Regions from separate parts of the Homo sapiens genome. Here all the other regions are linked to region 2. Evidence: fine-mapped expression QTL. A gene starts in region 2. Each other region holds a variant in brackets. All regions are shown on one strand. Distances are between the middles of the regions. Region 1 has its middle 5.4 kb from the start of LINC02289. Region 2 holds the start of LINC02288 (long intergenic non-protein coding RNA 2288). Region 3 overlaps LINC02288 (long intergenic non-protein coding RNA 2288).

Evidence for each region.
Region 1: its variant is fine-mapped to the expression of LINC02288 in whole blood (INTERVAL, PIP above 0.99).
Region 3: its variant is fine-mapped to the expression of LINC02288 in subcutaneous fat (GTEx, PIP above 0.99).

Annotation. Positions count from the first base shown.
Region 1 is chr14:77,076,578-77,086,550 of GRCh38, reverse strand. No RefSeq gene overlaps it. Among named protein-coding and RNA genes, the nearest start is that of LINC02289, 5.4 kb to the right of the region's middle. The variant T/A (reference allele first, on the strand shown) is at 5,492.
Region 2 is chr14:77,036,456-77,046,428 of GRCh38, reverse strand. It overlaps LINC02288 (long intergenic non-protein coding RNA 2288), which reads right to left and starts at 5,380. Exons shown (of 4, transcript NR_110554.1): 1 at 5,152-5,380. RefSeq lists enhancers at 1,362-1,872, 5,678-5,767, 1,419-5,901, 5,177-5,908 and a silencer at 6,018-6,207.
Region 3 is chr14:77,066,209-77,076,181 of GRCh38, reverse strand. LINC02288 (long intergenic non-protein coding RNA 2288) reads right to left here. Exons shown (of 4, transcript NR_110554.1): 4 at 6,679-9,073. It overlaps LINC02289 (long intergenic non-protein coding RNA 2289), which reads left to right. Exons shown (of 3, transcript NR_110553.1): 1 at 1-77; 2 at 4,410-4,472; 3 at 5,336-7,002. Among named protein-coding and RNA genes, the nearest start is that of LINC02289, 5.0 kb to the left of the region's middle. RefSeq lists silencers at 1-136, 7,662-7,956 and an enhancer at 7,633-7,692. The variant C/T (reference allele first, on the strand shown) is at 4,790.

The DNA.
Region 1 (9,973 bases), 40 kb before region 2:
GAAAGCAGATGATAGGTTCATCTCTATTACATGGGGAATTACCAAGTGGTTGCCTAGCAACTCACACAGCACAGTCAACATGGTCTCTGTTGTGGAATGTAGAGTGGTTAGCTTTCTTTTCAAGAATGTATTTCCATACTTCTTTTGGGTTTCTAGAAAAGAAGGTACATTTCCTGGATTTGAGGTTAGTAAAATGGACTTTTGTATTGCTTTTCCCAGTATTTATTCTATAGTAGGCCATTATTGTAACAAACAACAATTATCTGATCAAATCATTAATACAGCAATTGTTTCACTTTCATTCAATTCAGTAAGCATCTTCTATGTGCCATATACCCTACTAGACACTGTAAGGAATTATAAGGATGCACAAGTGTGGTCCCTGGTCTCAGGGAACCTAAAATTTAGTGTAGATGGTTATATGTTTAATAGATGTGTATAACTCACTTGTTTACGCATGCGAAACACATAGCTATATATGTATGTAAAATAAAGGTATCTTTATTTGGAAGAGTTCCTTTGTGTTTGATCAAAGGAATTTTTGCTTGTATTTAGATTACTGCCTTCATAGCTTACAGCTGCAATCAGTTCAAAAAGCTGTAATCAAAAATTGTAATCACTTTTAAGACATAGCTCCTATTGGAATCTAAGTAATTAGCAGCTCTTAAACAGCTCTTGTTGGAATATGCCTCTGCCGCTGCTGATGTTATCAGATAGGATGGTGCTGCTCAGTGTCTGCACTGCAGTCTTTCTGCATAATTGCTGCTGTGGCATTCACAGCTCCCTGCTTCTATTTCACACATTCCAGTTTAAAAGAAGCCCCTTGTCTTTCTTTGTCTACTTTGTAACCATGCAGCTGCCTCTCTCCCCTTGAAGAGGGACTTTGGCATGTCCCAACTCTTGCGTTAGGGAATCCTTTGATTACTTCAGCTAACTTCTTTTCCACTGGAAAGACAGTTGCTAGACAGAGCCTGGGACTTGACTAGCGCCTTTCCCGTGAATTGACTCATCTGGTGAATTGTGGCATCTTCATCCTCAGGAAGGTGCCAGGACATGGAGTGAAGTAAGTGTCCCTTGATGCAGCTGGTGCCTATTCGTTAGATTCTCCTCCTGAGTGAACTGTACTGAGACTCCACTAAGGAAAGAGGAAGCTTTTGTGGATAGTTGTGCCACAGCCCCAGAATTCTCTTCCACCATTTTGGCTAGCGCTCTTTAGTTTCTCTGCTTGCCTTCCCAGTCCCTGTGCAGGGCCTGCCCCTTGATCGTTTTCTCCGCCGTCCAGTTCCCTTAGATCCCTTGAGAAATCATTTGGACCTCTTGCCTTCACACAGAGCCCCTGACCTTTGCTTCCCAATACAATGTCAGCTAGAAGGAAGAGGACAAAGGGTAGAAGGGGACTGTGTGAGACCAAACATTGTACAGACGTTTTCCTTAAGCTTCCTCATTTCATCCTCATAACCACTTCTCCCTAGCTCTTCACAGCCCCATTCCACACATGAAGCTCAAAAAAGTGCTACACAGATTGCTCTAATGAGTACTGCCACAGTCTCCTGTCTCAAGTCAGTTTTTCACTTACGATCAAGCTAACCAACATTTACTGTGTACTGTGTCCCTCCCAAGGGTTAGGAGCACAGTAAAGCATATATAAGGCCCAGTCTCTTCTCTTAAGGAGTTCCCAGAATGGTTTTATAAGTGCTATAAGAAAGATTTGGGAACACAAATAGGAGATCAGTTAGTTTAGGTAAAGGATGGGAGATCAGGAAGAGACACTTAGCCATTTAGATCTGGAAGGTTGGCTAACAAGAGAGGGCTCTCTATTTACCTTTAAAAATGGGCCTAGGGCTGGGTGCAGTGGCTCACGCCTGTAATCCCAGCACTTTGGGAGGCTGAGGCGGGCGGATCACCTGAGGTCAGGAATTCGAGAACAGCCTGGCCAACATGATGAAACCCCGTCACTAATAAAAATACAAAAAAAAAAAAAAAGGCCGGGCGTGGTGGCTCACGCCTGTGATCCCAGCACTTTGGGAGGCTGAGGCAGGTGGATCACAAGGTCAGGTGTTCAAGACCAGCCTGGCCAACATAGTGAAACCCTGTCTCTACTAAAAAAATAAAAATAAAAATAAATAATTAGCTGGGCGTGGTAGCAGGCGCCTGTAATCCCAGTTACTTGGGAGGCTGAGGCAGGAGAATTGCTTGAACCTGGAAGGCGGAGGTTGCAGTGAGCTGAGATCGCACCACTGCACTCCAGCCCGGGCAACAGCGTGAGATTCCATCTCAAAAAAAAAAAAAGTAGCTGGGTGCAGTGGCGCACAGCTGCAGTCCCAGCTACTCGGGAGGCTGAGGCAGGAGAATCGCTTGAACCCAGGAGCGGGAGGTTGCAGTGAGCCGAGATTGCGCCACTGCAGTCCAGCCTGGGTGACAGAGTGAGACTCTGTCTCAAAAAAAAAAAAGAAAAAAAAAGGCCTAGAAAAAGCTGGGTGTTGGCCAGGCATGGTGGCACACGCCTGTAATCTCAACACTTTGGGATGCCGAGGCAGGCGAATCACCTGAGGTCAGGAGTTCAAGACCAGCCTGGCCAACATGGTGAAAGCCCATCTCTACTAAAAAATACAAAAATTAGCTGGGTATGGTTGCAGCCGCCTATAATCCCAGCTACTTGGGAGGCTGAGGCAGGAGAATCGCTTGAACCCGGGAGGCGAAGGTTGCAGTGAGGTGAGATCAAACCATTGCACTCCGGCATGGGCAAGAGAGCAAGACTTTGTCAAAAAAAAAAGAAAAAAAGGAAGAAGGGAAGGAAGGAAGGAAGGAAGGAAGGAAGGAAGGAAGGCGGGAAGGAAGGAAAAGCTGGATGCAGTGGTGAATGCCTGTAGTCTGAGACCAGGCTGGGCAACATAGCAAGACCTCATCTCTAAAAATAATAATAAATAAAATAAAAATTAATGATGGACCCAGAGCAGAGATCTGTTGCCCTTTGATGTTGGGAAATCCTTTATTGCTTGAATCTAAATCCTTTATGCTGCAGTTTACACCGTATTTCCTCTCGTTTCAACTTCAGTTAAAATAGCGAAAATCTGGCCTAATACCCTAGTCACTCAGAGGTTTTTTAGCAAGTCATATCTGGCTCACTACCCTAGCATAGAAAAGAAACTATTTTCCTCTCACCCCAAAACCCTGCAGCTAGACTTTTCTAGCTGCTGCACTATGAACAGTTTCTAAGAGATTCCTCCCACTAGAGCCTTCCCTAGAAGGGTGGAGGTGGGCAGGGCAATCAGCGAATCGGGCGGCCTGCCCCAGATAACTGCACTTGGAAAGAGTCTGCATTGTAAGCATTTCTCATGGTGTCTTCACTGAAGACAGAATTTTTGAAGTTAAATGACATATGAAAGACAGGAATAAAGTACAGTGTCTCACAACATCCTGTAAGAGATTTTTACCAGCCTATGGGTCATATTAACCAAGGAGGTCATATTGACATCCAGACCTAAATTTCATTAGCTCTGGTCTCCTACTGAAGGTCTATAGAACTTGCTAGCCATCCCCTCGCCCTGCTAACTCACCCTTAGTTATTTCTGGGAGACCCCCGAACTATCTCCCATAGGTTCATAGGCAAATCCACTATGTTCTTCCCCTTCAGCCTCCCCATTCCTGGTCTGCTATTCACAAGCTCCTTAAAAGGGGGTACCTCATCAGTGTCTGTGGCCTCCATAAGAACATTGTTCTTGCAGTGGTCACTCCTGTTGCCCTGCTGGGAACAGCATTCTCTCCCTTCTCTCCTGGGGCCACTCTAAGCCAGCAGGTCACCAAAGTGGAGGGTGGGATAGGGCAGCAGGGACCTCTCACAGACTGGCTGCACTTCGTTAAGTGTGTTGTGAAGCAAAGCTGCATATATCTTTAGTTGCACAAAGCCTCACACAGTTACTCCTCTTTCCATTTATCGCCCCTCACGCTTCCCTCACAGGGGCTGGAAATGAGTCTCTCAAACCATCATGGAAGATAACAGCTCATCAATACCTTCCAGTACACTTATCTTTCTCCCCAGAGAGCTCTGAACCCAAACAAAACAACTCCCACAAAACCAAACAAATAAAACTCAAAACCCTCTTCAATTCAAGATAGCAAAACTATGTCAATTGATGCAAATACTTAACAATACTTGGGTGGACAGAAATGAGAAGGTTGGTGATGTTTTGTACACTCCATCCCATAATTCATAAAACCCAGGAATAGTGGGGGTTTCTCATATAACTTGAAAAGGAAGTCAACTTATTTGCATAAGAAACATAATGCATGAAAGCTCTCATCTCATTGGCAATCTGTGAGAACGCAATCCTGGGAGAAATCTGCAATGGTTGTAGTCCAAAATTTAACAGTGCTTTGTCAAATGGACTTCTTGCTATACAAGAATTTTCTCTGTAGGTGCTAAGAAACATCCACTGCACCCTACTCCAAAATAAACACACAGAAATTAAACTCTTTCAATCCAGATAACACAAAAGACAAAGATAGAAATGGGATTGCCCTAAAAGTAGACTTCACAGTATGGTGGACAGAGCTCAGGATGTGGCATTAAAGGTCTTAGTCGAATCCAGGCCCTGCCACTTACAAGCTGGAATCCCCCGAGAAAGTCCCTTTCCCACCAGGCACGGTGGCTCACGCCTGTAATCCCAGCACTTTGGGAGGCCAAGGCAGGTGGATCACGAGGTCAGGAGTTCGAGACCAGCCTGACCAACATGGCGAAACCCCATCTCTACTACAAATACAAAAATTAGCCAGGCATGGTGGCACATGCCTGTAATCCCAGCTACTCAGGAAGCTGAGGCAGGAGAATCGCTTGAACCTGGGAGGCGGAGGTTGCAGTGAGCTGAGATCGCACCACTGCACTCCAGCTTGGTTGACAGAGCGAGACTTCCTCTCAAAACAACAACAACAAAAACAAAACAAAAAAAAACCTGTAGAAACTTGCTTTTGTGGTCTAAGTATATTCTTAGTTTAAAACCAAAGTGTTTTGTTACTACTGCTATTTGTTTAAACATCTCTGTTTCAACATTAGCTTTAGCCACAGAGAGTATCTGGGACCAGAAACACAGGATCTCTATTAAAAGAACACGAAACGTCACTTCCACACGACCTGCAATTTCTAGAATGGAGAGAAAGCTTCAGTAAACATTCAGTAATAGCATGCAACAAAGGCAAGTAAAGGCTGTGATAGAACACTGGCATGGTGTTCTTAAAAGAATAATATTATTTGTCCTGTATTTAGCCAACATAAGGATGTATTGCTCTTGTTTTCTCATGGTGGGAGATATGAAGTTATGAAGAGATAGTTACTGGATCAAAATAGAAGAAATGATGCCTGGCAGCTAGAAAAAAATATTCATGTGCATTGATTACACAATAAACAAGTAAATACGTAAGTAGCTCTTCTTTACCCATTATTCTAAATCTTCAGTGATAAATCACTATACTTCACAAGGATCTATGAATTTTGCAA[T/A]GTATTAATTTTAAATTAATTAATTTATTTTTTATTTTCATTTATTTATTTTTTTGAGACAGAGTCTCGCTCTGTTGCCCAGGCTGGAGTGCCATGGTGTGACCTCGACTCACCGCAACCTCTGCCTCCTGGAGTGGATTCTCGTGCCTCAGCCTCTCAAGTAGCTGGGACTGCAGGCACACACCAGTATGGCTGGCTAATTTTTTGTATTTTTAGCAGAGATGGGGTTTTACCATGTTGCCCAACTGGTCTCAAACTCCTGGGCTCAAGTGATCCACCCACCTCGGCCTCCCAAAGTACTGGGATTAGAGGTATGAGCCACCACACCGGGCCTAATTTGTTTATTTTTATTATTTTTATTTTTTTGAGACAGGGTCTTGCTCTGATGCCCAGGCTGGAGTGCAGTGGTATGAACATGGCTTACTGCATCCTCAAACTCCTGGGCTCAAACAATCCTTCTGCCTCAGCCCCCCAAAGTGCTAGGATTAATTTGTTTATATAGACAGGAGGAGTTCCAGAAAAAACATTTTCCTGGGGTCTGACGTACCTTAAGGGTGGTCTTGACCACTACCTGGCCAACAGTGCCATGGATTTCAAAGATATTAGAATACATTAAAAACATGGATCTTAGAATAGATGTAATGCAACATTTAGTCTCTCAGAAAAGGCAAATTTATTTCTTTCTCACTTGAGGTATTCATTGCAGATTGTCAGGATACTCTGCTCCACAAGGTCATTCAGGGATCCAGGTTCTTTGCATTTTCCTGTCATCTCTTAGGGCATCATTTTTACTAGCATGGCAAAGCTAGGTCTCAGGCAAGATCATGTTCTGGTTCAAGGGAAGGGGAAAGAGTAAGGATGAGACATGCCCACTATCTTTTTTTTTTTTTTTGAGTCTCACTCTATCACCCAGGCTGGAGTGCAGTGGCATGATCTCAGCTCACTGCAACCTCCGCCTCCTGGGTTCAAGCAATTCTCATGTCTCAGCCTGCCGCATTCCCACTATCTTAAGGCCTAGGTGTAATCATCTCTTCTGCCCATATAGTGCAAACTTAGTCATGTGGTCACACCTAACTGCAAGGTGTCCCCCAAGTGACTACTCACTCCAGGGCTGGGACTCACATGTACTACGATTTGAACTGCAAGGAAAATTGGGAAATGCTATCTCCAGCTGAGCAACTATGGACCCAACTACATATATGTTACTATGAAAAAATGGGAGGAAAAATCTTGGTAAAACTCTGGCAGTCTCCATTTTAGAGATCCATCTGAATGAACCATCTCAGATGCTAGTTTATCTTAGAGATACCTGAAAGAGTTCTTGTTTGTCACCTGGAGGTTGATTTGGACAATCATGGCACAGGTATTATACTACCACTCGGCAGAGTCTTCTTTAAACTTTTAGCTCTCACCTTAATCAATTTAAGAGTGAGCTTCTTTTTGGTATAAAGACTTTGGTAGGTCAGGTGTGGTGGCTCACACCTATAATCCTAGCACTTCAGGAGGCCGAGGTGGGCAGATCACTTGAACTCAGGAGTTCGCGATCAGCCTGGGCAACATGGTGAGACTCCATCTCTACTAAAAATACAAATAGTAGCTGGGTGTGGTGGTGCACACTTATAATTCTAGCTACTCTGGAGGCTGAAGAGGGAGGATTCTTTGAGCCTAGGAGGTTGAGGCTGCAGTGAGCTGAGATCTCACACTACACTCCAGCCTGAGCGACAGAGTGAGACCCTGCCTCAAAAAAAAAAAAAAAAAAGAAAAGAAAAGAAAAGAAAAAAAAGACTGTGGTAGCTATGTATTGCTTTTTGTCATCAAGAATCCTTTCACCTGTCTCCCAGTGGTAGTATGCTACTTTCCTCTTGGGAACCCCACTTCCCCATTCTTGATGTCCCACAGACAGAGTTGACTCCACTCCCAGATCCAGAAGTGGTTATGTGACTACAACCTGGCCACTTAGGCCATCACATTCCCCAGCCATGGTGTCTTGCTTGATGATGGATTCATGTTCAAGTCAGAGCCAGTTCAGTGGAATGAGACTTTTGCTGGGACTGCAAAAAGAAAAGCACTTCATGTTTTTTCCTCACAAGTCTCAGGCATAGGAAGAGGTGGGACTGGATTGCTGGCAGCCATCTTATCCCAACAAGAAAACGCTATGGAGAAGAGCAGCATCGGGGATAAAGATAAAGCCAAATCTTGGTGATATTGTTTGAATCCCTGGATCAAGCTTGGCCTGAACCAGCACAATGCCTAATCCCTGGTCTGCTTAGTTATATGAAACAGCATCCCAATTTAAAGTCATTTAGAGGTGAATTTTCTGTCACTTAGTGCAACCGAGAGAGTAATAACTGATGCGAAGGCCACATAGACTTGGCCTTTTTTTTTTTTTTCCTGAAGTATAAATTCCCTTAGCATCTGTGTGGCCCAGCACTACACTCTGGATCTCCTTAGCTGTCTGGTCACTGAATGGGGACTGCTACTTGGCCGTGATTCTCAACCAGGGGTAATTTTGCCCCCAAGGGACAGTTTTGTCATGGAGTTGGGGGAGGCGCTACTGGCATCTTGTGGATAGAGGCCAGGGATATTCCAAAACATCCTACAATGTACAGGGCAGCCCCGACAACGAAGAATAATCCAGCCCAAACTGTCATTAGTGCTCTGTAGATGGTTTTGGCTGCTATAACAAAATACCTTAGACTGGGTAATTTATAAACAATGGAAATTTATCATTCACAGTTCTGGAGACTGGAAAGTCCAAGGTCAAGGCGCCAGCAGATTCAGTGTCTTGTGAGGGCTCATTCCTCATACATGGTGCCTCCTCTGTGTCCTTGCATGGCAGAAGGGGTCAACAAGCTCCTTCAGGCCTCTTTTATAAAAGTCTTAATCCCATTCATGAGGGGAGAGCCCTCAGGACCTAATCATGTGGCAGGCAGATTGTCTGAGGTCAGGAGTTCGAGACCAGCCTGGCCAACGTGGAGAAACTCTGTCTCTACTAAAAAAAAAAAAAAAAAATAGCCTGCTGTGGTAGTGCACACCTGTAGTCCCGACTACTCGGGAGGCTGAGGCAGGAGAATTGCTTGAACCTGGGAGGTGGAAGTTGCAATAAGCCGAGATCACACCATTGCACTCCAGCCTGGATGACAGAGCAAGGCTCTGTCTCAAAAAACAAATAAATAGGCCGGGCGCGGTGGCTCACGCCTGTAATCCCAGCACTCTGGGAGGCCGAGGTGGGTGGATCAAGATGTCAGGAGATGGAGACTATCCTGGCTAACACGGTGAAACCCCGCCTCTACTAAAAATACAAAAAATTAGCCAGGCGCCGTGGCAGGCACCTGTAGTCCCAGCTACTCGGGAGGCTGGGCAGGAGAATGGCGTGAACCCTGGAAGCGGAACTTGCAGTGAGCCGAGATCTTGCCACTGCACTCTGTCTGCCTGGGCGACAGAGCGAAACTCTGTCTCAAAACAAAAAAAAACAAAAACAAAATAAATAAACAAACAAATAAATAAATAAATAAAGAGTGTTAGGAGCCTTCTCTCCTGTAAGCTGTGAACAACTAAGCTTGTTTAGGTCCTGAAATGTCACTGTCATTGTCAGCATGATAAATGCTTTGTGCTGTAATAATACAGAGAAACAGGATGTCTATTCCCCAAAGCCTCTGTGATGGAGAAGGTGGGCTTTCCAGAGGCTCTGACTGTGGAATGTGTCTAGAATCCTCTGCATGTTTTCCAGGTTCACCTCCACACCCTCATCTCTGCTCAGCCGGGTCCTTGCTAGGAGCAGGAACCTGCCTGGTGGGTCTCTGATGGCAGCCCCATGCTCTGCAGACCCCGGACTCTCCGCAGCCCCAGCTCCTGCCTTGTCCTGTTGTCTTCCACCAAGGGGCACCCTTCTTTAAAAAGCTGGACTCTTTTTTTTTTTTTTTTTTTTTTGAGATAGGTTCTTGCTCTATCACCCAGGCTGGAGTGCAATAGTGCAATCACAGCTCACTGCTGCCTCCACTGCCTGGGCTTAAGTAATCCTCCTGCCTCAGTCTCCTGAGTAGCAGGGACCACAGACACACACCAACACTCCAAGCTAATTTTTAAAAATTATTTGTAGGGATGAGGTCTCGCTATGTTGCCCAGGCTGGTCTCAAGCTCCTGGCCTCAAGGGATCCTCCTGCCTTAGCCTCCCAAAGTGCTGGGATTACAGGAGTGAGCCACTATGCCCGGCCCAAGACTGACTCTTAAAAAAGGACAGAGCTAGTCCCAAGCTTGTGCAAGGACAGTGAGAGAGGGGAGACTCAGAAGTAGCCAATTTTTCCCCCAGTAATTAATAAGACATTTAAAGGACTTATCAGGTCACCACAGCTCCATCATCCCTGGGGAATTGTTTGGTTTAGCAGAACTGTTCCCACCCTGCCCCCCTTTGCTTTCTTCTTTCCTTGCCCAGACCCCTCCCCCAACTTAGTTGACGTTGCACAAAGCTTTCAAAAAAACAAG
Region 2 (9,973 bases):
ATTGCAGAGTGGCTGGCAGCTCTGCCCTCGCCCAGGGCATTCTCCTTAAGGAGCAACTTCTGTCTCCTTTGCCCGTGAACCAACCTGAATGAAGTGTATTTCCAGGAAATATAAGCTGCCTTTGCTTTCAAGAGTCACATCTGGCCAGGTGCAATGGCTCACGCCTGTAATCCCAGTACTTTGGGAGACCAAGGTGAGCAGATCACCTGAGGTCAGAAGTTTGAGACCAGCCTGGCCCAATGGTGAAACCCCATCTTTACTAAAAATACAAAAATTAGCCAGGCATGGTGGCGTGCGCCTGTAATCCCAACTACTCGGGAGGCTGAAACAGGAGTATCACTTAAGCCCAGGAGGTGGAGATTGCAGTGAGCCAGATCATGCCACTGCACTCCAGCTTGGGCGACAGAGCAACACCCTGTTTCAAAAAAAAAAAAAAAAGCCACATCTATCAGTGATGGGTCCTGCAGGTCCCCCTTGCTCTTGTACCTCATCTATGCACACCTCCCCAGTAGCTTTCTGGTTTTGTGTATAGACAGATGTTTCTGATATATGCGTGCATGCAGTTCTGTGTGTGTTTTCTGGGCTCAAAAGCATCTGCGCTGGCACAGGCTGAAGGCTGGCACCACCCTTGGCAGCAATAGCCCAAGGACACTTTTTTGTCCATTGCATTCCATGTCTGGGTGGGGCCCCTGCCTGCTGGGTAAGTATTGACTCCCTGCACTTTTCCATCTATATCTTGGAGTGTTCTTTTGGCAGAAACTACAAGTGCTGCTAACTTGAGAGTCCAAACCCCAGCACCCAGCTGTTCTCAGCATATCTCCCTGAGATGGGGTGCTTGGGCTCACGGACTGACATCATGGCAGCTGCCATAATAAAACACTGAAGGGGTGGGGAACAGGCAGGCTCACTAAGCCACACCTTGCTTTCAGAACTTTTGGATGTCCACAGATCTTTTTAGCACTGTCTGCCCTCTTTTGTGGCTGCATTCTTGCACAAGACCTGGTTGCCCCTAGCTTCGTCTCTCTGAAAAACATGTTCAGCTCCCTCCAGAGAAAACTCAGAAACTCCTATGCATTTTCCTGGAATCATTCTATAGCTCCAGCCTGGGAAAGCTTCCAAAAGTTTCCTGAACCAAAGATAATAATAATAAAAGAGGTGAGGGAGGGGAGAATCGTGGGCACACAATTCTGTTGATTAATGTGCAAGGGAACAGACTAGGATTGTAGGGAAAGGAAAAAGAAAGGCTTTTCCAGGTCAGTTTAAACATTTGTGTTGTCTTCTTTAAAGGCAATTTCAAAATAGTTGGCCTCCCCAAAGCGATTTTTTGGAATCTACCCAGAGGGCAGAAAATGAACCCTTCCTTCCCCCATCTGGAAAGTCTTCACACCAGTGGCCCCACTCATTCCTGAGCTCTGGCTTTAGAAGGACTTTCCCAACCTTCCAAGATTCCCTGCCCTCCCTCACCCGCTGACCTATAGGGAGTTATGTTTGCTCCACCCCAAGCAGCTGCATTCCAGCTGTGGAGCTATTATGAAACATTTAGGAATCCTCTGGCTAGAAAGGTAAATGAGGAATATGCCCTAATGACAGCTGAAGGCTGGCTAAAATCTGTAAACAGAGAAGCAGCAAGGAACAAATGCTTGACAGAGGATTCCCTTTACAATTCTATTGTGCAGAAGAGTCAGCTGTTAACTTACAGAAGACCTTCTAGATGGTCTCACAGATAAAAGTGCTGATCAGCTTGACCCCCTACTGTGAATCGCAAGAAATGAAATTCAAACCTATTTGTGAAGATTCAAAAATATTTTCACTTACTCATGATCTCTCATCTTTTTAATTAAAGCACAACATCTTGCTCAAAACAAGCCTTTGAAACAACAAAATAAACAGAACCTTAATTTAGGGATTTGCCAACTGATCTTGACTACTGCTGGCAGGTTATAGCAGCCAGTTAGAAGCAGAACATGGGGTTCCCTGCCCTTCCGAAGATGGTGTCTGCCTGAGGACTCAGAAAAGAGGGGGGCCACAGAGACCCATGAGGATCCTTGAAATACACAGAAGTTGGCCAGACAGGGCAGGGCTGAGCAAATGGCTTTTTAGGCAGCTGAGGCCCTCTGCAGCTGTCAGAACAACTGCCACCAAGCTCTCCTGGTTGAGGTTGCAGCAAGTGCTGCAGTGTTGACCTTATCTTCCGAGACTGCGTTGTGGACACTCAGGTTAACGGCAGTCCACCTTACTATCTAGTTCTAGAACAGTCAGCGGCACCTGCCTAGCTACACGCTGTCTCACCCAAACCATTTCATTTCCTGGGTCTTGCGATTCTGGACTTTTCCACTAGCAACAACTGCCATCCAGCCAGACAGCAACAATGAACCACCACAGGTATGCTTTGAGAATCCAGTATCCAGGGTGGGGAACTCCATATAATCCTCCATTCACGCATGGTGCTAAAAGCAGATATGGAGAATTAGTAGAAGAGGTGCCCTGTGTCCCAGGGGGCCGCCCAGCCACAGTGAAAGCATCTCTCTCTCCCCACTTCTTCCTGCTCCAGTCGTTCTACCTCAAACACTCCCTACAGAGCACCTTTTAACACCTCTGGAGCCACCACTGCCACGTCACCCCTCACCCCCACCCACTGGCCTAACCACCCAATTCTCAGCCAGGTCTTTTGCAGAGCACAGCCTCCATGGTTGCCATGGAGGGTTTCTCCCCCCAGCAGTACCCCTTGGGGCTTTGAGACCCTATAAGGAAAGCACCAGGAAACCCCAAAACATTCTCCCTCCTGAAAACAATGGTTCCCAGTGTCTATGCCAGACACACTCACACCACCCAAAATAGACTCATTGTCCTCTTGCACAACATCCAGGAATTTGGTGAAACTCATCATTTTTCAGGTTACCGATAATGCAAGTTTGGAAACTGAAACAGGAAGGAACACAGGCTGAAAAGCTTTTATCCAGCCCACAGCATTTCTCTCTCCAGATGCAAGATAGTTTTTTTTTTTTTTTTCCCAGCAGTACTTTGGTGGGGTTAAAATTAGCTGGCAGCATTCTGGTCACATGCTAGACAACAAAACAAAAGGGAGTTGTTCCCCCTGCCGCTCCTGAACTGGCCCACGACAGAGTTTCCTAATCCATGGATTTCTGGGAAGCTGGCTCTCCGGGCCCTGGTATGGAGGGGCTACACCAAGGACTCCCCTCCGGTTATCATCCCTGCTATAATGGGGCGACACAGACGAGGTCAAGGCTGTTTGGAATCTTGGAGCTTGCCTCGATCTGGAAAGGCACTCAAGGGTCCAAAATGGCTTTTGTAAATCTTCTCACCAAAGCCAACAAAGAAGCAAACACTACAAAAACACTGAGAGAGAGAAGGGTAACATCTGACACATGAACATGGGCATCCATTGACTTGTGGGGTGGTGGCTGCTCTTGGCATGATTAAAAAAAAAATAGCCGGGTGTGGTGGCTCATGCCTGTAATCCCAGAAACTTTGGGAAGCTGAGGAGGGCAGATCGCCTGAGGTCAGGAGTTCGAGACCAGCCCGGCCAACATGGCAAAACCCTGTCTCTACTAAAAATACAAAAAAAGTAGCCAGGCATGATAGCACGTGCCTGTAATCCCAGCTACTCGGGAGGCTGAGGCAAGAGAATTGCTTGAACCCGGGAGGCGGAGGTTGCAGTGAGCTGAGACTGCCCCACTGCACTCCAGCCTGGGCGACAGAGGAAGACACCGCCTCAAAAAACAAAACAAAACAAAAATAAATAAATATAATACATCTGGGCTAGAGGTGGCGAACATTTAGGATAGATTCTGTATCTCTTGACCTTGATGACAGGGACATGTCAGGGTCTGCTTTGTTCATCCAGCTTAAAACTGTCACCAGAAGCCCTGGATAAAAATGCAGCCTCTGATTCACACACGGTCAGGAAACATGCCTTGTGCTCAGTACAGAAACATGTCCGTCAACCTGGGAAAGGAATCACCACCACGAAATATGCTTTTGGCTTGCCAAAGCTTAGCAGCTGTGAGAGCCAAAAACCCAGCTGCCTGGACTGTCTGGGGAAGTTGGCGGGAGGGAGGGGGGGTTGCTTTCTGAATCACCTGATTTCTGCCTCTAACTCTAGTTTAATTCCAAGTCGAAACCTATCTTGAAATGTCTCAAGAGCCTACTGCTCCTAAAAATTGTAGGTTTTAGCTAACCCTTCAGCTCTGTGCCTGCTGGCAAGGTGAAGCAGATGGCGTTTGTTGATTATTTATTTGGAAGGGGCTACTTTGGAATCAGGAAATTCCAGCGAGACAGAGTGCATCGCCTTGGCCAGAGCTGCCGTGACAATCACGAGCAGACACCCAGAGACAGTCAAGTTCAAAGAAATTGCAGCTAAGCCCCAGGAACTTGGGGCATTTTCAGTCTTTCTCGTCTCCTGGCCTCCATGTTCACCATGCACTTAGGAAGAAATGTTTCGTTCAGTTCAACATTCTGTGGTCTTCAAGTGTTTGAATACAAGGGCCCACATTCAAGGTCCCGCTTTGTCAAAAGGGCTTCACGAAGCTAACAGGCCTCTGACTTGTGTTTCATCCTGAAGCCCCTCATTATACAGACAGATCAAAACAGAAATCCCCCCTGCCTTAATGCCCAGCACATAAAGTCCTCTTTAATTAACATACACCATTTTTCAGTGAAACAGCCTCAAGGTGTTAAAAGTGCATAAAGGTCTGAAAGCTGAAGCCCAAGATAAACAGTGTGCCGAAATATATTTAGCAGAAAATATTGAAAGCCACAGGAAAAATAAGTTCCCTTCCTGGGATGTTAACGAATGTTTAGGTTCAGGAAACCTTCAGGAAGTAGCGAGCCGAGAAGGAATACTGCTCACCGTTTTTACCCCCAATGTAAATAAATCACTAAACCTCTTTGGTTTCCATAGGCCTGGGCTGGAGTGGAATATTTCATTTTTTCCCCATTAAACAGGCCACCCGGAGTGTTGGCATTACAGGCCTGAAAATATACCAAATCTGAATGTGCTATTTTGTTTCTGTACATTAAATCAGACTGTGTTTCAAACGGCAGTTCGTGCTAAATGGGGGGCTGATGATCCAGACTGTGCACCCTCACACACCTGAAATTGGCGCAGCGTAAATGATAGATCTGTTTCACCTTGGATCTCCCCGTGTCTTGTCTCCTACAGGAACACACCCTCTGTCGTTGTTGCCCAAGGTGATGTCATGTTCATTCTAAAGGCCGCGGTTCCAAGGGGACTACACCACAAGAAGATGCCTTCAGAAAGACCCAGATTTCCTGCGGTCTCAGGTAGGCGGCAGGGAGCAAGAGAACAAGGAAAGGACCCGCCACCACTCTCCCCAAGATGGATGCTGCATGATGTAAGTGGCTGGCTAAAATATCTGGCATCCTTGCAGTTTTAAGTTGCCAGCTAAATATTATTAAAAAGATAAAATACACGCAAACTGTGCAGAATGCAGGGCTGCTGTGTTTACATCCGGGTTTTGATGACTCAAAGACTTACACTTGAGCTTGCTGAAAAGCCTCTATTAAAAATACCGCTTTGTGAAAGCCCCCAGGGAGCAGGAAGAAAGCTGGGGGTGTGAAAGAGGAGAGCGGGAGGATGGTGACCCACCCAAGGACGGCGCTGACACCTGTGCTCCGGGCTGGCACTTAAGGCCAAGGAAGTGCTTAGAGGTTAACCTCCTCTCACCCTCGGAACCAGAGCGGGGAGGGTTAACCTTTTTCCAGAACATTTATTTCACCATCTCACTGACTAGAGGGAGGAGGGGCGGGAGGGGGAGAACGAGAGCCTGCCGCGCAGAGAGGCTGCGGATCACAAGGCCATTCTGATAGCCTCCTGTCCCCATGGCAACTGCAACGGCATTTATCAGTTCCTTCTGCGCACAGGCACAGCAAATCTGCATTGCACATGGCAGGCTTCCAGCATTTCAAATGAAAGAGCACTTTGAACGGCTGCCAAGTTTGGAAGGAGCAGAACTGTCAGGGCTGCTTAAAGCTGGCAGTTTATACTGGGGAGGTTTTCGCTTCCCACAATTCTCCGGGCCTGGCGAGCCGCCAAGTACTTAGCGGAAGCTAAAAAGTAACTCGCTCCCCTCCCTCCCCTCCCCTCCCCCTGCTCACGCTCCCCCTCCACACTATTCACCGCAGTGCTCTCAAAATTTTCCACATGTCCTGTGTCACCAGTGCAGACTGTACAATGAAAACCAGAACGCCGGCTGCCCACGACCAGGCTTTTATTAATAAATAACGGAGGGAGGAGGAGGAGGGGTTGGGATCAGACACTGACAGCTGGGGCACCGGGTCTCCGCGTACCTGCCAAAACCCCATAACCACTGGGTGTGAATGCGTGTGGTGTGTGTGCCTTTCAGCCTTAAAAATACATTAATAAAAATAAAAATAAAGGGAGCCTCAGAGCTGTAGACACCCTGAGTACCAGGGGAGGAGGGGTGGGTTTCGGTTGGATGGTTTGGCGCTTTATTTAGGGTGGGAATGGAGGTCTTGCAGGCAGCGTTGTTCAGATCCAGCCTTTCTAAGATCTGTAGGGAAGAGGGTTGTTATTGAGAGCTAAGCCTGTTTCTGGAGCTTTCCTTGAATCTCTCAGATGTCATGGTGAAAGCTGTGAGGCCACAGATGGGGAGGGAGTTCGGAGATGCTTTTCAATGCAAAGTTTACCAGATAACTTCTGACCGTCACGCACAGCCCAGAGCACAAGGGCTTCTATGGGCAGAAAGTGGAAATTGGCATAGTATTCACTGTACTTTTTTTTTTTTTTTAATGAAAATCTACACTGAGATCAAGGGCTTGGGCTTTATTTTCCAGCACAAATAGAATGAAAATTGTCTGCCGCTTAGGCGGTTGGATAGAGTTCAGGAAAACTATGTCTGGCATTAATTCCAAAGTGGAGGTTTTGGTTCAAACGAGGCCCATTAATTTCAGTAAACTGTTTTCACTAGTCCAGACCCTGCTGTGCAAGGACTATTTATTACCTTTTGCTAACCTGATGTCTGCAGAGTTGTAAAGCAAAGGGGGAAAAATCCAGGGTGAAGATATCTATATTTTGCATCAAATGGGTTTTGCACTTCCCTTGGGGGGCCGTGTTTTATGGGGAGTTTTCTATCCTTGGCTTTTATCAGTGCCAATTTTTTAAAAAAAAACTCCATCTTGCAATGAATTAGAAAAAAAAAAATCCTGAAGGAGAGGAGCCTGGTGAGAGCAAATACCCATCTCCTGCCTCTTTCAGAAGGGCACCTCCCAGACACAGGGATGTTTCGTGTCCCTGTCTTCAGCTCCCAGGCTGCAGGTCCACTGCAAAGCCCTGACATGATTCACCCTGACGATCGGGTCTAAAATACACCAAGACAGTCAATTTTGGCATTTGTTCTCCCTTAGGAATTTTACTAGCTGCCGTAGAAAAGCACATAAATTCCTTCCCCCTCCCTCTCTTTTTTCCGTGCCTCCTCTCTTCATCCCTCCCCCCCCACAAGTCCATCTTGATGTCATTTCAAAGAGAAGGATGAAAAGGGGGGATTTGTCAGGCAGTCCGGTTTGAGTGTGTCTTGCCAGGCCCCAACGCGCGCTCGAGGGCGCGCGCGCGCACACACACACACACACACACACACACGCACGCACCAGCTGAGAATGTTAATCAGAATTAAAAGCCAGTCAGTACTATTAAAGCATCAAACATGAAGACCTAGAGAAGAAGGAAGGTAATTGGGGGTGGGGGTAGAGGGAGTGGGAATGAAGTAGAATTCCGTCTTCTGCACTGACTTACTAAAATTAAAGGAGGGGAGAGGCAGCGGTAACCCCGATTTGGTCACCTTGTCAAATGTATTGGTCTTTCCTTTTAACTATCCCCCCACCCCACATCTCCCCACCTTCCTACCCCCTACGCCTCACCCCTTCCCAACACAGTCAAGTTTTGTGCCATTCCCAAGTGTGATTAATCTCTGGCAGAGGCCAGAAACAGGAGTAGGTTTCTTGGCTGCCCGTTCTGATAAACAATCTGTTCTTGGGGAGAGTAGGTGAAGGGGACTGGCGGGGGAAGTGGGGGCGGTAATCTGCGGGCATGATGTGGGGTGGGGGTAGGAGAAGGAGGAAGAGGAGGGGGCAGCCTCCAGGCCGGCCCCAGCTAACCCTAGTAGAGGCCGCCCCCCCACCCGCCGGAAAATGCAAGTGCCCCTCCTTGGGGCGCGTGGTCTGGGGGTGAGTCAGGTTTCCTGCCCTTAAAAATGTGAGCAGACAGTATATGCTTTCTTGCTTGTCACTTCACAACGTCCAGGGAACGTCGGAGGGACATCAAGGGCCCAGGGAGAGGGAAGGAAGAGGAGGGGAGGAGAGAGGAGCCCGCGCATCCCTAGGCTTTGAACCCATTTCAAACGCTCTGGGCGTTGCAAACCAGGTGCGCTTGTGCACAGACTGCTTGTCCCAAAAGGAAACCGAGGCAACCACGGGGGAGGCTGGGTAGGGATGGTGGTGGTAAGAAGTATTTTAAAGCGGAACAAGGAAAGCCAGAAGATGTTTAAAACAAAAGGAGAGACTATTGTTCAGCGTCGGAGGTCGCTGGGATGGAAGCTGTAGGCAAGAAAGCTGGCTGCGGATTTTGCAGTGGGTTTATTGTGTGGGCAACCAGGCAGAAAGCGGGAATATGAAAAAGTGGGGAGGGGGAGAGTTGGCGTGAAGGAAAATCAGTGCCTAGAAAGCTGTGCACGCTGAAAATGTCACCAAGGAGAGGGCAGTGGCACCGAATAAAAGATGAATAATCGGCTACCTTTTGGAAAAAGCAATGTAAAAATATTAATAAAGGCGAGAAGCCCGCTTCTTCTCAGCCTGAAAAGCAAATCCATTTCTCACCTCCTGCCTCTCCTCCCCATCCCAACACACACAAAACACACACATACACACAGCTCTTCTCTGCCCTGCATCCAAGAAGCCTCGGCTAGGCTCGCTTTCCTTTGGATTTAATTACTCGAAAATGCTGAACAAAAACCTGTAATTACACCCTTAGTCCCTGCCACTCAGGCCCAGTACACTTCCTGCCTAGTTTTGTTTTTTAAAGAAGAGGTCATTGCCTCTTTTCTTTCCAAATTGGCCAAAACAAAAAAAAAAAGTAAAAGCCCTAAATAAATCCAACTGCTCCGAGCTTCACTGCCACCACCAGGGATTTGGGGAGGGGATATCCTTGTCTCTCTAGGAGAGATGAGAAACAAACAGCCTAACCTTGCTATTGTCTTTCTCCAGCTTTTAGGCCTAAAGCTTGTCATTGCTTGTTTGTCTGCCAGCCCAGAAGGACATGGACATGCTAGATTGGCCCCCCAGGAGGAGGCCCTCCAAGGGCAAGATGAAGAGAGTGGACAGGGCTTAGCGGCAGGCCTGGCTTTCCACCCATTTTACCTCGAAGGGCTTAGCGCTGGAAAAAAGATTTGTCACAGTGTCTCGCCTTTCTACAGCCCTAGGCATTAACATACAGAATTTCATAGCAAACCCCTGAAGTAGGGAGAACAGGTTTTAATATCAACCTTTGACAGGTGAAGAAATGGAGTCCCAGAGAGAATAAATAGATTGCTCTAAGTCAGTCATGTGGCTGGTGGGAGTATTGAAAAAGCTCTGCCTCTTATGACTTTTGGGCTATTGCATCAGGAAAGTAGGACACCTAGGAGGAAATGGAAGCTTCTAGATTCTGGGCTACAGCCAGTCTGGCTTGGTTCATCCAGCACTGAGATAGAAAGTGTTCCCTAAATAAATAGTTGAATAACTGAATGAATGGTAAATGGAAGGGCACTGGTTAGGGAGTTGGGGAACAGAAACCCACCAGGCCATCTGGTAGCCAAGTTTCAGCTTCGAAACAAAATGTAAGTACTGAGAATAGTTTCACACCAGGAACCTATCAAGCTTACTCTTCTGTGTACGGCCAGAGAGGGGAGTTCAGGTTAAAGTATGGTGGTCCTCTACATGT
Region 3 (9,973 bases), 30 kb before region 2:
GCTAAAGCAAGGGAAGCATTTCCCCTTCCCCTGGCTGAAAGCTCAGCTGACCCCGAGGCTCTTCTGGTCATGCTTAGGTATGTACATTTTATGTCACGAAATCCAGTATCGACTTAGAGATTTAAAGCAGCCACCCAAAGATATTAAATGACTCTTGCATTTTTCTTCAAAGAGAAATCTTCTTCCTCCTGCCCTAGTTAAGGCCTTAGTTGGGGGCTGCCAGCTGCCAGGGACTGGGCATGGTGGCTTTTGTCTATTCTCTCCCGAATACCCCTCTCCCCACTTGCTGGTTGCTTTCAGAGTCTAAGTGGAGGTGGTGGGTGAGGATGCAGGGAAGCGGATGGGGAGCAGGGGAATAGGGCAGTTTTTACTTGACTGTATGATTGCCAGCTCTCTGGGTGTGGCAGATGGTGAAAGCTCTTTCTGGAGGGTTCCCTGTGTTCTTCAGAAGTTCCCATCTCAGCCAGGCTTGGTGGCTCACGCCTATAATCCCAGCACTTTGGAAGGCGGAGGCGGGCAGATCACTGGAGCCCAGGAGTACTAGACCAGCCCGAGCAACATGGCTAAACCTCATCTCTACCAAAAATACAAAAAGTATCTGGGGGTGGTGCTGCACGCCTGTAGTCCCAGCTACTTGGGAGGCTGAGGCAGGAGGATTGCTTGAACCCAGGAGGTAGAGGTTGCTGTGAGCCGAGTTTGGGCCACTGGACTCCAGCTTGGGCAACAGAGTGAGACCCTGTCTTAAAAAAAAAAAAAAAAAAAGTTCCCATCTCTAAGGTTTTCTCCTGAAGTTCCCTGTTCTGCACCTCCATTTCAGGTACAGCTATGACTCCATCTTCAACCCCTAGAAATCCAGCATCCTCTTCCAACTTCTTTCTGCTGACATCCCTTTGCCCTTCTCAGAGGCCCTACAGGACTTAAAATGACCCCCACCTTGGCCCTCTCTCCTGCCATGGTCCATCTGATCCACATGTGGCCCATGGGAAGAACTCACACAGCCCCTTCACTCATCCTAATGCAGTCCCTCCTGGCACAGTCCCATGGGGGCCCACAGCTCCAAGTGGCTGCATGGAAGCCCCCATCACTAGGCTTGAGTTGAAAGCAGTAGGGCCCCTAACTCCTTGGTGGGGTAGCTTACAGCATGGCTTTGCCCTTTCTGGAAGTTTCTATTTCCAAACTCTCCCCATTCTCCACACTCTATATTGTTGGTAGGCTGAGGGCCCTGAGTGCTATGCAACTGGTTCCCCATTATTTCCTTTGTAAATACTACATATGGGAGTCTGTCTCATGTTCAGTTTGCTATCTGATGATATTGTGGTAGCCTGCTTCCACAATGGCCCCTCATTGTCCCCATCTCCTGGTATTCACATCATTGTGTCTCCTCCCTCCGTGAACAGGGCCGACCCTTGTAGCCACTTGCTATTGCAGAGCTGATGGCATGCATCTTCTGAGGCTAGGTCATTGTTGTGTGTTTAATGATGTCCCCCAGAAGATATGTTGCAGCCCTAACCCCCAGGGCCTATAAATGTGACCTTTTCTGGAAATAGTCTTCGCAGTTGTAATCAAGGGTTGTTCTTGACTAGAGTGGGCCCTACATCCAATGACTGGTGTTCTCATAAGGAGAGAGAGACAAAGAGTAGACAGACACAAGGGAGAAGGCCGTGTGAAGATGGAGACAGAGATTGGAATGATACAGCCACAAGCCAAGAAACATCTGCGGCCGTCAGAAGTTGGAAGAGGCAAGGAATGATTTATTCTTTCCCACTCATTGTTTCACCAATGAGCACCTTCCATGTGCCACCGTTCTGACCCTGCTGACAATGTGGTTTCAGACTTCTGGCCCCCAGAACTGTGAAAGAGTAAATTTCTGTTAAGTTATCTTGCTTGTGGTACTTTGTTACAGCAGCCCTGTGGATCTAATATAGTCATAAGAGACATTGTGACCTCCTCCCTGCTCTCTTGAACCACTCATTCTGGGAGAAGTCAGCTGCCATGTCATGAAGCTACTCAGGGAGGTCCATGGAGAGGTCCACATGGCAAGGAACTGAGGCCTCCTGCCAGTAGCCAGCACCATCTTGCTGGCCATGTGAGCGTGCCATCTTAGATGCAGATCATACGGCCCCAGTCAAGCCTTCAAATGACTGCATCCCTACTTGACATTTTGACTGTAACCTCATGACAAACCCTAAGCCAGAACACCAGCTAAGCCACTCCCCAATTCCTCATCAAGAGAAACTGAGATAATAAATGTTTATTATTGTTTTAAGCTACTAAATTTTGAGGTAATCTGTTATGTAGCAATAGATAACTAATACTGATATCTGTCATATTGGGGCCTCAGTGTAACTTGGAACAGAAAGAGTTCCATATTATAATTCTTAAACATTACTTGGAATGGTTAGGGGCCCCAGTGCTATTCTCTCTGGGGATATTTCCAGCAATGGGCCCCACAGCCATTTATAGTGAGTTGTCCCACTTACTCTTTCACCAGTGAGCACTTTCCATGTGTCAGATGCCATATTAGAGACTGGGGCTATAGAAATGAACAGTCTTTTGGGAGGCCGAGGCAGGTGGATCACCTGAGGTCAAGAATTTGAGACCAGTCTGACCAACATGGAGAAACCCCGTCTCTACTAAAAAAAAAAAAAATACAAAATTAGCTGGGTGTGGTGGTGCATGCCTGTAATCCCAGCTACTTGGGAGGCTGAGGCAGGAGAATCACTTGAACCTGAGAGGCGGAGGTTGTGGTAAGCCAAGATTACACCATTGCACTCCAGCCTGGGCAACAAGAGTGAAATTCCATCTCAAAAAAAGAAAAAAAAGAAATGAACAGCCCTGTTCTTAATCACTTAACCAGTGGTCATTATGGTCTCTGCTAGTAGAGCACTATGGGCAAGAAGGACAGCACTGCTTTGCAGGGAAGGGAAAAGAGAGACATCACTGAGGCACTGAAGAGGAGAAGCATTCAGTGGTATGACCTTGAAGAGACAAGAAGAGGACCAAGTTCAAGAGTCTGCAAGAACAGTGGGAGGTAGAGCTGGAACTAGAATCCAGACACCCCACTTCTAGTCTTGAATTTGCGCTTCCTGAACTACACAGAGGCTGGCTCATGGTACCAGGGTCTCTAAAGATACCTGGAGGCATGAACTTGAATCCTGCTGGGATACTACTCTTTGAATAATAATTTCTCTATGGAAAGGCAGGGTACAAAGTCTTGGAATCTTGTTTCTGCTCTGCCATCTTAGCTAAATAACTCCCTTTGGAGATCCTTTGAACCCTGATAGATCAGCAAGCCCCCTCTGAAACATCATAAGCCTCAGGGCAAGAAGGCTGGCCTTCTCCTCCATCTGAATCCCAGCCCTTCTTTTTTTGAGATGGAGTTTTGCTCTTGTTGCCCAGGCTGGAGTGCAATGGCGCGATCTCGGCTCACCACAACCTCTGCCTCCTGGGTTCTAGCGATTCTCCTGCCTCAGCCTCCTGAGTAGCTGGGATTACAGGCATGCAAAACCATGCCCTGCTAATTTTGTATTTTAAGTAGAGACAGGGTTTCTCCATGTTGGAAAGGCTGGTCTTGAACTCTCGACTTCAGGTGATCCGCCCGCCTCTAGCCCTTCTTAGTAGTGGTGTTTTCTAAACAGGTTAGATAAGAATTTGACACCTGCTGAAATCTCCAGGCTGGCTCCTCCCAAGGTCAAATTGCACATCTTGCCAACGAGAACAGCCTTCACTTCTTGAGCATCTACTCAGCAGCAAGTGATTTCTCTAATCTTCACAACACCCTCTCAAGGCAAGGGATCATGGGCCACACTTGGCAATCTAGGAAAGTGAAGTTCAAGAACAAGCCCCAGGACACACAGCTAGTGACAGCGAGGCACAGAGCTGGGATTCCAACCCAGGCCTGTCTAACCCTAAAGCTCCTCCTATCCACCTCCTCCTTGCTGCCACAGAAGGTGACTCAGAGGTACTCAGTCTGGAGAATTCAAGCCAGTATCCCAGGAAGTGGAATTTTCTCCAGTGTTCTAGGAAGGAGGGATTACCATGGCATGGGGTGGGCCAGGTAGACACAAGAGGCAGTGAAGGTGCATAAAGTGGTGATTAAAGGGAATGGAGTCTACTGTGGTTTGGATATGGTTGCGTCAACCTAAACTCATGTTGAAATTTGACCCTCGGTGTGGTGGTGGTGGGAGGTGGGGCCTAGTGGGAGGTGTCTGGGTCATGGGGGCAGATCTCTCATGAAGGGCTTAGTGCCATCCTCACAGTGGAGAGTGAGTTTTCACCCTGGCAAGACTGGATTCTTGTAGGAATGGATTTGTTCCCAAGACAGTGGGTTGTTATAAAGCCAGGATGCCCCTTGGGTTTTCCCTTCTTTGCAAGTGTTCACTCTCCCTTTGACCTTCTGTATGTCGCAGCCCTCACCAGAGGCTGAGCAGATGCTGAGGCCATGCTTCTTGATTCTCCCAGCCAACAGATCTGTAAGCTGAATAAACCTCTCTTCTTTATAAATTACCCCGTCTCAGGTATCCTGTTATGGCAACACGAAATGGACTAAGACAGGCGGGTGACAGATTGTCCAGGTTTGAAACATAGCTTTTCCTTGTGCACCGCATCTCAGGTTCTTCATCTGAAAATTGGGGATAAGAACATGTACCTCCTTGGGTTTGGGGGAAGATTAAATGAGATAATGCATGTGAAATTCATGGCAAGAGTAAACTGCCCATTACATCTTTCTGCTTTTAACATTGCTATTGACATTACTTTCCCTCCATGGTCACTAGACTCTTGTATCAGG[C/T]CAGTATTTGAAGACAGACAAATTTAAACGAAATAGATGTAACTTGGAGGATGATGGCAGAGAAATCTGTGGCTTGACGGTTTTTTTTTTTTTTTTTTTTTTGAGACAGAGTCTTGCACTGTTGCCCAGGCTGGAGTGCAGTAGCATGATCTCAGCTCACTGCAACCTCCGCCTCCCGGGTTCAAGCGATTCTCCTTCCTCAACCTCCCTAGTAGCTGGGATTACAGGTGCCCGCTACCATGCCTGCTAATTTTTTGTATTTTTATAGAGACAGGGTTTCACTATGTTGGCCAGGCTGGTCTCGAACTCCTGACCTCGTGATCCACCCGTTTCGGCCTCCCAAAGTGCTGGGATTACAGGCGTGAGCCACCGCGCCTGGCCTTGAAGGTTGTTTTTCTAATTTTTTTTCCCAGCTCTAAGACAGCTCCCTGTGTAAGATGATGAGTGTGATTAATTGCAATCAGCTCCTCTCCATGTAATGAGGGAAGCTGGATGTCATCCTCTGGCTTCTGTCCAAGCTGATGCAGTTACCTATTGTGTCCACAGGATGTCACTATCAATCACGCTTCGACTGAGTACAGCCAAACCAGGATACTCAGGGACTTGGAATCTGTTACCAGACTTTTATTTAGTACAGACACAGCGCCAGGGGGCTGAGCATTCTTCAGCAACACCCTTTGGACCCCTTTCTACACCATCATGCTGTATGAACAGAAGGGTTGGGGACATGAAGGAGCAGCTCAGCTAAGGTGACCCAGATGGTTGGGCTCAGAGCTGGAAGAACACCGTGGTCTTCTGACTCCCAATTCCTGCATCTGTCCTGCTTGTAAGAGGCTTGCCAAGAACAGGAGCTTTTGTTTGTAGGTCTCTAGGGATGGCCACCACAGGGAGTGTGATTTGAAGATGGGGTCGGCGTGACATTACAGGCCCCCTTTAGGCTCTGCTGGGTTGCAGGCCAGCTCTCTGGGCTGCCTTTCTGATGGCTGCTATTTTAAAGGCAGATAGGATGAAGTTAGCAACAACTTATATCATTAAACTAGCAAGGGCTCAGGAGGGGCAGCCCCCTTCTGGGAATGTGCCTAGCTCCTGCTCCAGAATGGAGGAGTTTCTGTGGCTCTAGGAGAGCTGGCCTTCTATGGAGTCTGAGCAATGTACCGCACGGGGAGGAGAAGACGCTTCCAGAAGATACCAGTGTTTCTATCCAGAGACGTTTCCAGGACACCACGTTAAGCAGCAGAGACACTAGAAGCCAAGGCACCTATGGTCTGGTGTGGATGTGTGCCTCCTGTGCCTCAGTGGCATCATCCGTACCATGGGAGGTGTGTAATGAGGGGTGAGATCACGTCTGTGAGGGCACGTACATAGTAGATGCCCAGGAAGTGCCAGTCCCCATCTCCTTCCCAGTTTCTTCAAAGCCTTCTGGAAGGCACTGGCATAGCCCAGTCCTGAGGCACTGCTTTTTCTTTCATGGATGATCAGGAGCTTCTGTGATTTCTTCCCCCTCACTCTTCATTTTGCCAAGATGTTGCCCATAGTAACCTCAGCAGTGGAGCGAGGATTCTGCACTGTTCCACTGCCCTGGGGCTGCACACCCACGTGAGCGGGGCCGACCCGTCCCAGAGCGCTTTGCCCTCAGAAGGCAGCATCACCTGCAGGAGCAATGCCATGGACAGCTCTGGCTTGTCCTCCAGGGCCCTGGCATGGTCAGTGAGAAAATGCCCCTGGGGCATGGGCTTCTCCTGTCAGTCAAGTTCAGAAGGCTTCCTGGGGTAGGTAGAGACGCTCCCTACCCAGCTGAGTTATTGAAATGATAGGAGGGAGAAGGGAAGGTCTGGGCATGTGGCACTGTGATTTTTTTTTCTTTCTTCTTTTTTTTTTTTTTTTTTTTTGGAGACTCGGGGTAGAAATGAGGACAGGAAGAAGTACAATCCGTCTGGGATTGGTTTATTTTTATTGCTTTTTAAAATCATGTGACTAATTGGTGTTCATTGAAAAAGAGAAAACAAAAATAAGCCAAGAGAAGACAGCAAAAATAATCTGTTAACATCTTGGCAAATATCCTTTTTCTCTGCATAGAAACGGAGAATACTTTTGTTTCACTTATAAAATGTTTCTTAATGTACACAGCTTTATAACCTGCTTTTTGCTTAATGGGACAATATACTAGGACATGTTTTCAGGCCAACAGATAAATATACTTCACTTGCATTGATGCTATTGGCTCCATGGTGTTCTGGTGGTTGGTAATTTACCCTGTCATTCTGTCTCCCTTTACTCAGTGGCAAAAATGACCTGGGCACCTGCACCTGGGCCTGGGCTGGACATCAGTCCTTGGCAGATGGGGAAGGTTGGCGACCAGCAAGGCACAGAATAAGGACACACGGTCCCAGCAGACCCTTGGGATGACCTTGACCACTTGGACCTTGGAGAGAGAGTGGAGAGGAGAAGAACAGAGGGCAAAGCCACATGGAAGGGAGGGTGCAGGTGGCTGGTGGCTGGAACTCCTAGAGGCTGAGCAGTGGGGGTTGCAGGAGAGAACTGGCTCCTTCTAGACAGGGGAATATCGTGGTTAGGGTTCTGGAGTCAGATTCAATCTGGGCTCTGTCACCTACTAGCTGGGGAACAAATAATTGCGCCTTGGATCATCACCTATAAAACTAATAATAGCTACTAATCAGATTGATGTAAGTGCCAGGATTAAATGAGAGAGTCTACAAGCTATAAAAAGTGCTATGTGGCAGCTGCCTTTAAACATTCCTAACATTGGCTTTGTTATTATTGTTGCTGCATTTCCAGGTAACGCAGAAGGGCTTCTCTCTTCCCTAGCCCATCCCTCTGCCTCATTTCTCTCACATTCCTGCTTCTCCTCTTTCTCTTCCTTTTCAACCCTGCAAAAGCCTTGGCTTCGGGAGCAGTGGCAGGAGGGAGGGAAGAGGAGGCTGCAGCCGCTACAGCCTCATGCCACATGGGGGCAGCAAGGCCCTCTGAAATGTGGGCCTGCCTCTCCCACCGCACCTTCTGGCGGGTGCAATGGCCCAGAAGAAAGAAATCCATACCCACCTGGGCCCAGGTAGGGGGGCACTGCCCAGAGGGGTCCCACGGTCCCCAGCCTGGGTCAGCCAGGCCCTGGCAGAGTGGGTGACTGTTACGACAGGTCCCAGGAAGGCAGGGTGCCCCAGAGTGGGGCCGGGTCTGCTCAAGAGGGAGTTGGAGAATCTGGAGAAGGGTGGGAAGGAGGTGTGAGAGTCCTCCAGGAACCTACAAGCCTCCAGGTGCCATGAGAGATGGTCCTGGAAAATTGGCCAGCCGAACTTGGTCTTTGGGACAACCCAGAAGAGAGAATTAAGTGGGAGTCAGTATAGCACAGTGGCTCAGCACATGGGCTCTGGGGGCTGGCTGGACCTGGCGTCCACTAGTGGCTCTGGCGCTTACCAGCTGTGTGGCCTGGATCAATTCACTTAACCTCTCTGAGCCTCCATTTCCTCACCTGTAAATAATAGTGGTACCTACCTCATAGAGTTTGTGAAAACTAAGTAAGGTAATATACATGGAGCACTTGGCACACTGCCCAATCCATGGCAGCTTAGTTATTTTTATCATTATCAGGTAAGTTGGCCTGAAGAGCTGGGAGACAGTTATGTATAGAAAATGAATGTGCTGGCCGTGCACATGCATGGTGGCTCAAGCCTATAATCCTAGCACCTTGGGAGGCAAGGTGAGAGGACTGCTTGAGGCCAGGAGTTCAAGCCCAGCCTGGCCAGCATGGTGAAACCCCATCTCTACTAAAAATACAAAAATTAGCTGGGGGTGGTGGCACATGCCTGTAGTCCTAGCTACTCAGGAGGCTTAGGCAGAAGAATTGCTTGAACCTGGGAGGTGGAGGTTGCAGTGAGTCAAGATCACGCCACTGTACCTCAGCCTGGGCAACAGAGTGAGACTCCCTCTCAAAAAAAAAAAAAAAAGAAAAGAAAAGAAAAAGAAAAAATGTGTTTCCCCAAGTTCACAGCTGTGGCTGGGTATTCTTTGCAGAACCAAGTTGGAGTATGCATGGCTGGGGATCTGGAGAGGAAAGAATTGGGGGGTTGGGGTCAAAGGGCAATCATAATAAAGAACAAGGGGTGGGGGCCTCTAGGCTTGGCTGCTTTGAAACCAGGTAAAGACTCCAGTCGCCTTCCTGGTTAAGGAACATGTTGTATGTGTTCACACCACACCTCTTTCCTCCAGGCTGCCCTTGAAGCAGTCCCACTCCTCCTGGGGGTGCAGAGCAGGGGTCCACAGTGGTGCCTGCATGGGAAGCAGAAGAGGGCTGGCATGGAGAAGGGGGGCTCAGTGACCTTAAGCATCTAAGGCCTGATGGTCAACTTGGGTCCACCCTGCAGGGAAGCAGGTGCCCCTGCTGGCCTTCTTGCCATGCACAGGCAGACTGGGCCCTGGACCAGGCCTCCCACTTCCTGCTAATGAGGCGCGGCTCCTCCAAGGGCAGAGGGGCTATGCTCCTGGCAGGCGGGCTAGCACGTTGGTGAGCAAGGGTGAGAGTATGTCTGCCTGTGTTCTTTTAACTTCTGCAGAAAGGTCACCGAGGGGTCTCCATTACGAGCGGTCTTGAGCCCTGTACTATTTTTTCATACAATTTAATCTACTCCCTGGATGGCCTCCAGTGTGTGAGCCACTGACAATCGCAGGTTTTTGCAATTGATTTCCTGGAAGCAGCGGCCCAGCCGGCAGCCACATGATGGATGTATGCTAGGCAACCTGGTTCAGCAGAGGCTGAAGGGGCTTAGGAACCCCAGGCTGCCCTCCCACACCATGGCAAGGTCCCTGAAATGTCGGAAGCATGCACTTCTGCCCTCCAGCTCCACCCTGAATCATCAATGCCTGGAGAACCACTCACACATGTGCACAAAGAGACATGGGTGAGCATGCTCGGTGCAGAATTGTTTGTATGGTAAAAACTGGAGCCACCTTATCTCTTCATCAGGCAGGGCTGCTGCATTCTGGGTGTGGATGGCATCCCCTGGAATTGTGCAGAGGCACCATTTACCATGAAAACCTTTTGACCCATGTCCTCTAGAGCTGGGACCCTGAGTGAGGGGGAGTGAGAGGGGCGTGGTTGAATCAACTGTGTTACAGGCACGCATGGAATATTAGGTAGAGGTTAAAAACAAAAAATGAGGATAGCCAGGT